Homo sapiens: one gene and its partner. The protein of the gene in region 1 interacts with the protein of each later gene in a biochemical or structural test. Each region holds a gene or a part of one and is shown in the gene's direction. Other genes may lie near its edges.

The links. Proteins that work in one complex are often made in the same cells at the same time.
Region 2: the proteins of MED1 (region 1) and CTDP1 form a complex in vitro, tested with the Homo sapiens proteins (one study listed by BioGRID).

Annotation. Positions count from the first base shown.
Region 1 is NC_000017.11:39,441,264-39,444,763, reverse strand, and holds part of MED1 (mediator of RNA polymerase II transcription subunit 1), read left to right. Parts: intron 1-1,135; coding exon 1,136-1,214; intron 1,215-3,500. UniProt on the Homo sapiens protein: Component of the Mediator complex, a coactivator involved in the regulated transcription of nearly all RNA polymerase II-dependent genes.
Region 2 is NC_000018.10:79,707,303-79,710,802, forward strand, and holds part of CTDP1 (RNA polymerase II subunit A C-terminal domain phosphatase), read left to right. Parts: intron 1-3,043; coding exon 3,044-3,134; intron 3,135-3,500. UniProt on the Homo sapiens protein: Processively dephosphorylates 'Ser-2' and 'Ser-5' of the heptad repeats YSPTSPS in the C-terminal domain of the largest RNA polymerase II subunit. This promotes the activity of RNA polymerase II.

The DNA of each region.
Region 1 (3,500 bases):
CTGAGTAGCTGGGACTACAGGCGCGTACCACCACACCTGGCTAATTTTTGTATTTTTAGTAGAGATGGGGTTTCACTATGTTGGCCAGGCTGGTCTCGAACTCCTGACCTCATGATCTGCTCGCCTTGGCCTCCCAAAGTGCTGGGATTACAGGCGTGAGCCACTGCAACCGGCCTCAAACTAGGCTAAGTTTTTGTTCTTTGGAAGTCCCTTTTCTGGACTACATGTTCTGTTTCTTTTCTTTTTCTTTTTTTTTTTGAGACAGAGTCTCTCTCTGTCGCCAGGCTGGAGTGCAGTGGTGTGATCTCGGCTCACTGCAACCTCCGCCTCCTGGGTTCAAGTGATTCTCCTGCCTCAGCCTGCTGAGTAGCTGGGACTATAGGCGTGCACCACCACGCCCAGATAATTTTTGTATTTTTAGTAGAGACGGGGTTTCACCATTTTGGCCAGGATGGTCTCAGTCTCTTGACCTCGTGATCCACCCGCCTTGACCTCCCAAAGTGCTGGGATTACAGGTGTGAGCCACCGCACCCAGCCTATATGTTCTGTTTTTTAGAGTCAATCTCATTTTCTTAAAATTTGGTTGTGTTTCTCAGATTACATGCAAATCACCTTGTTAAATTTGTACACTACCAAATCTCCTGAGCCATCTTATTTAACTGTTTATATCTTAGCATGTGGTCACTTCCACAGGCGGCAGATCTCATGTATTACATTTTGATTCTTCCTAATATTTCTCTAAAGGTTTTTTTGTTTTAGATGTGGAAATACAACGTTTTCTTTTTTGTTTTTGACTAAATAGAAACAGGATCTCTCTATCTTGCCTTGGCTGGTCTCGAACTCCTGGACTCAAGTGATTATTCAGCTTTGGCCTCTCAGTGTGCTAGAATTACAGGCATGAGCCACGTGCCTGGCTGAGGAATACCTTTTTCTACACTCATATATATGGATTTTGCATGGATGGACAGAGTAACACTTGTAGACCAGTGTTACTCTATATAGTCTACAAAATCTATAGACTATATTGAGTCTATAGACTGTCCTGCAATATTACTACTAGGATAATGTGTATGTTTACCTAAAACACTGTTGGCCTGGTTAATTTTCACCTCAAATGTTTTCCCACTTGACACAGGAGAAGAGGGTTGTGATGAGTTCTGGAGGGCATCAACATTTGGTCAGCTGTTTGGAGACATTGCAGAAGGCTCTCAAAGGTTTGTGAACACTTTTGAAATATGCTGATTTCACAAAACCCCCAGTTCAAGAAGGACCATTTTATACTTAAACTAGAAGTAAAAAATTGAGGTAGGTCAACTTTATGTATTAGATATTGCTCTTGCATTCATTTATGGAGTTGGAATGATCTTTTTGCTAAAGTTTGAAACATTTATTTTTGATCCTGTTTTGGAGGCTGATAGAGATTTAAAAGATAAATGATGAAGGGTAATATAAGATACCTGGGGAGGCTGGGTGCGGTGGCTCGCTCCTGTAATCCCAGCACTTTGGGAGGCTGAGGTGGGCGGATCACAAGGTCAGGAGTTTGAGACCAGCCTGGCCAACATGGTGAAACCCTGTCTCTACTAAAAATACAAAAATTAGCTGGACGTGGTGGCGGGCACCTATAATCCCAGCTTCTCGGGAGGCTGAGGCAGGAGAACAGTGTGACCTGGGGAGGCGGAGGTTGCAGTGAGCCAAAATCACGCCATTACACTCCAGCCTGGGCAACAGGGCAAGACTTGTCTCAAAAAAAAAAAAAAAAAAAAAAAAGATACCTGGGAAAAGTTTTTTTTCCCTTCACATTTATTTCTGATTAATCTCGATAAGAAGATGGACTTTTTTTTTTTTTTTTTTTTTTTTTGAGATGGAGTTTCACTCTTGTTGCTCTGGCTGGAGTGCAGTGGTGGAATCTCGGCTCACCACAACCTCTGCCTCCTGGGTTCAAGCGATTCTCCTGCCTCAGCCTCCCAAGTAGCTGGGATTACAGGCATGTGCCACCATGCCCGGGTAATTTTATATTTTTAGTAGAGACAGGGTTTTCCATGTTGGTCAGGCTGGTCTCGATCTCTTGACCTCAGGTGATCTGCCCACCTTGGCCTCCCAAAGTTCTGGGATCACAGGCGCGAGCCACAGCAACTCGCGAAGTTTTTTTTTTTTTTTTTTTTTTTCCGAGACGGTGTCTCACTCTGTCACCCAGGCTGGAGTGCAGTGGCACAATCTTGGCTCACTGCAACCTCCACCTCCTGGGTTCAAGCGATTCTCCTGGCTCAGCCTCCCAAGCAGCTGGGACTACAGGCGCGTCCCACCACGCCTGGCTAATGTTTTGTATTTTTAGTAGAGATGGGGTTTCACCGTGTTAGCCAGGATAGTATAGATCTCCTGACCTCGTGATCCACCCGCCTCGGCCTCCCAAATTGCTGGGATTACAGGCGTGAGCTACCATGCCTGTCCAGAAGATGGACATTTTAACTCTAAAAAGATTTTTACGGTGTTTATGGAGCAAATTTCCAGGAAAGCAAATGTAAAATATAAGTCATGAGCTTGATTATTCATGCTTATAATGACTAATTCTATTTTTGGGGAATAATGAAAGTAAAAACAGATTTTACTGTGATCCACCAGAAATGAACCTAATTCAGCTGAGGGTTTTTTTTTTTTTTTCTGGAGACAGTGTCTCACTCTGTCGTCCAGGCTGGAGTGCAGTGGCACGATCTCTGCTCACTGCAACCTCCGTTTCCCGGATTCAAGTGATTGTTCTGCCTCAGCCTCCTGAGTAACTGGGATTACAGGCGCCCATTACCATGCTCAGCTAATTTTTGGATTTTTAGTAGAGATGGGGTTTCACCATGTTGGCCAGGGTGGTCTTGGACTCCTGACCTCAGGTGATCTGCCTGCCTTGGCCTCCCAAAGTGTTGGGATTACAGGCGTGAGCCACTTTGCCCAGTCTCAGCTGAGTATTATCTTCTTTACCTTTTTTTGTTTTCTTTTTCTTTGAGACAGAGTGTCGCTGTGTCACCCAGGCTGGAGTGCAGTGGCACGATCTCTGCTCACTGCAACCACTGCGCCCCCACCGGGTTCAAGAGATTCTCTTGCCTCAGCCTCCCGAGAGGGTGGGATTATAGGCGCGCACCACCACACCTGGCTAATTTTTGTATTTTTATTAGAGACAGGGTTTCACCACGTTGGTCAGGCTGGTCTTGAACCCCTGACCTTGTGATCCGCATGCCTCGGTCTCCGAAAGTGTTAGGATTACAGGCGTCAGCCACCGCACGAGGCCTTTTTTTCTGTTTTAATTGTGGTAAAATATAGGTAACAAAATTTACCATTTTCTTTGTTTCTAAGTGTATAGTTCAGTAGCGTTAAGTACATTCATATTATTGTATAATCATCACCACTGTCCATCTGTAAAACTTCACTCATCTTCCCAAGCTTACATTCTGTAATGTCCCATTCCCGCCTTCCCCCAGTCCCTGGCAGCCACCATTCTGCTTCCTGTCTTTATG
Region 2 (3,500 bases), on another chromosome or scaffold:
CCATGTTTCTTTATCAGCCTGAAAGCTGGAGGGAGCCTGGGAGCTGCTCGCAGATTCAGCAGAGCATCCATGCAGACATCCGCAGGCCTCTGAGCCGCTTAGACAGCAGAGCAGGGAGCCTGCTGGTGGGCGCTTGGCTGCGGAGAGCCTCGAGCGCGGGTCCTCCTGCAGTGAGACCAGCTAGGTTTGTTGAGCGTCACCGGGCCGTCTGGTGCCTTCTCCGTTTCAAGCTCTGCTTTCTATGCTAAAGTTCCAGCATTCCAACGTGTCCAAGGGATGTCGGCCAAAACCAGACGAAGACATCACAAGAAAACTGCAGACCAGTATCCCTTTGAACATGGATGCAGAAATTCTCAACAGAACATGGGCCCTCGAGCCCAGCAACGCAGGAGGAAGACTGTGTCCAGGCTGTGGTTCAGGAAGGCCGAGCTTTGCTTCATTGTGGCTGGCGGGATCTGTAGAGATGACCTGGGTCAGCTTTTCTACAAGTGAGAAAGTGAGGTCCGGACTGAAGCCTGAGGTGGTCGCCGAGCATCTGCTTTTGATGCTTTTCATTTTGAAAGTGACCGTGTTGATAGCATGCGTGCTTTCAGTATGACTAGGACAGAGATGTTAAGAGTTTGCGATGCGTGTCTTTTATCTGATAGTAGAGACGCTAATAATTCTATTAACAGACTTTAGATCTAGCGACTTCATGGCCTCAGTGATCATCTGGAATTTACGCATAGTGAGAAACAATCGCATTTATTTCTCCTTTAAGCCCAAGTATCTTTTGGTTAATGAAATACTAACAAACCAGTGGTATCAGGGAACGGAAAGCTCCTGGCAGTACTGCATTTGAAACGTCTGGAGGTGGTGATGCTTCAGCCAGGAAGCAGGTTCATCTTCCCAGAAGATCTTACGGATCCCACAGTGCATTGTGCATAGTGCCGTGGGGCTGCAGGGTAACTGAGGTGGTGCACAGAGCAGCTCTTCTGTTTTAATTGTAATGTGTATGTTTTAACCTGTATCAAAAACAGCAAATGTGTTTCTCGCATTTGTGATCTCAGAGGTGGTGGTGCAGAGGTTGAGCCCAGTAGGGATGGGTGCAGGGAGTAGTTGATTAAAAGCCAGCGTGAAAACAATAGTGATTATGTGGAGTGCAGTCAGGGCACGTTCAGATCCGGAAGTGGACCCCGTGTGCCACGTGGGGACGTGGAGCCAGGCGTTCCGGGGTGCATTCGGATCCGGAAGTGGACCCCGTGTGCCATGCAGAGGCGTGGAGCCAGGCGTTCCAGTGAGACTTAAGTCTTGAGAGAATGTGGGCTGCGTGGTTGGACTTTGGGTTCACAGTGCTTTTGAGATGTCTCATCTACCTCCTTTGCTTCATGCATAACTAACGGTTATGCAGGGGACCTGCGTGCCATGACAAGACCACAGTCCCAGCTCCCGACTCTGGACCGGCTCACTCTTGTGCAATCCAGTCCCCGTTTTGTTCCACGGCACCTGCACGTGTCAGGCCAGATAGAGGTTGTGTGTTAATGTGTTCAATTTTCTTACAATTTCAGCCTCTTGGGAGAGTAATAATTATGTTGTATTCATTCCCGCACCTTATATTCCTAGCAAAATTCCAAGTAATGTTAAACTCAGTAAATGTTAAATGATCGAATACCCTTAAACACGTTATGTGGGTGCCATGGAATACCTATCTCTTGAGGTATGTGCAGATTTATGGCTTCAGCCACTTGTATGATGAGTAGCTGAAACATTTCTTTTTGAGGCTTCATAATTAACCGTAGCTTTTTCTCTCCAGAATGTTTTAAATGGCTGGTGAAATTAAATTGACATTGAACTTGATGCCTCCAACATATTTTACCAATGGAATAAATTACCTGAAAGGTTGTTTTGTTTTTGTTTAGTACCCCTACTTCTACAAACTGAAATATGTTTCCTATATACTCTGTGGTTCTTGTAAACTAACAAGAGATAACTTATTTTTAAATTATCTTTATTTAAAAATATGAGCACTTTACTGTAAATTGAAGACTTTGCAAACTTAGGAAGATAACACAGTAGGCTTAAAGTTCAGAAGATAAATTTATAGATCAAGAAACCCAGAGCAGAGGTGATCCCAAGAAACCTCTGCCTGATTTGTTGATTTTCACAGTGGTGCTTCCTGAAGTGTAGAAGGGATGTTTGCAGATAGCTTGGTTTTACTATCTTTAAGGAGTCGAAGCTGAGCATCAAGCATGTGAAGCTCTTTAGAAAATTACTGTTAAAAAGTTAAACTAGACTTGTAATTAACGGATGTCATGTGAAGTGCAAGTGTCAAATGTAGCCTAAGCGGATTCTTCGCTGTGGAAGCACCTTCTGCACTAGCTGGTCAAGGTGGTGTCCCGGATGTCCTTCCTTCCCAGTCTCCTCTGTCAGGCAGGCTTCCTCGATGTTGCCTAAATTACCATTATTAAAACGTGTATAATAGTTAGAAATAACCGGCCTTTCTGTGTATTTCTACAACACAGAGTGTGAGTTTGTATAATTCTACTAAAGTAACTTGGGAGAAGCAAACTTCCTTGATAACCTTTCCTCCACTAACCATTACAGATGAGAGCAGTGGGCCACCCGCCTGGGGTTAGGAAAGATCATATCCGAGGTGACGCAGAGTAATTTCAGCTTAGTGTCCAGACTCCATCACGTGAAGAACCACATGCAGAGTGTTTTGAGATCAAATGATGACTTACCTGTTTTACTTATGCAAGTGCCTTCCATAATTTTCATATCCATCTGGTTTAGATAGGCACTTCAGTAAGATATTACAAATTTTTCATGTTAGTAGAATTATAAACACTTATCAACATGGTTTGTGTTTGAGAAATAAGTTCACCATAAGAGAAAAGAAGCCCCACACGAGCCACGTCTTACCTCAAAAGGGATGAAGTGTTTGGTGCCAGTTCATCATGTTGTGTGTCTGCCACTTTAAAAAAAACATTCAAGGCTTCACCATGTGCCGTGTGACCGAAACGTGTCTCAGGTATGTAATCTTTGTCCTGTTTTCTTTTCCAAGGCTTTTTAGACCCCGAGAAGAAGCTTTTTTCTCACCGAATATTATCAAGGGATGAATGTATTGACCCATTTTCTAAAACGGGAAACCTTAGGTATGTACCCAGCCGCGCTCCTCACAAAGACCTCGCTGTTCATTTCCCATTTCAAAAATCGCATCTTGAAATTTAGAGCAGTATTTCTTTTTTTCTTTTTTTTTGAGACGGAGTCTTGCTGTTGCCCAGGCTAGAGTGCAGTGGCGCGATCTCGGCTCACTGCAAGCTCTGCTTCCAGAGTTCACGCCATTCTCCTGCCTCAGCCTCCTGAGTAGCTAGGACTACAGGCACCCACCACCTCGCCCGGCAATTTTTTTTTTTTTTTTTTTTTTTTTTTTTTTTGTATTTTTAGTACAGACGGTGGTTTCACTGTGTTAGCCAGGATGGCCTCGATCTCCTGACCTCGTGATCTTCCCGCCTCAGCCT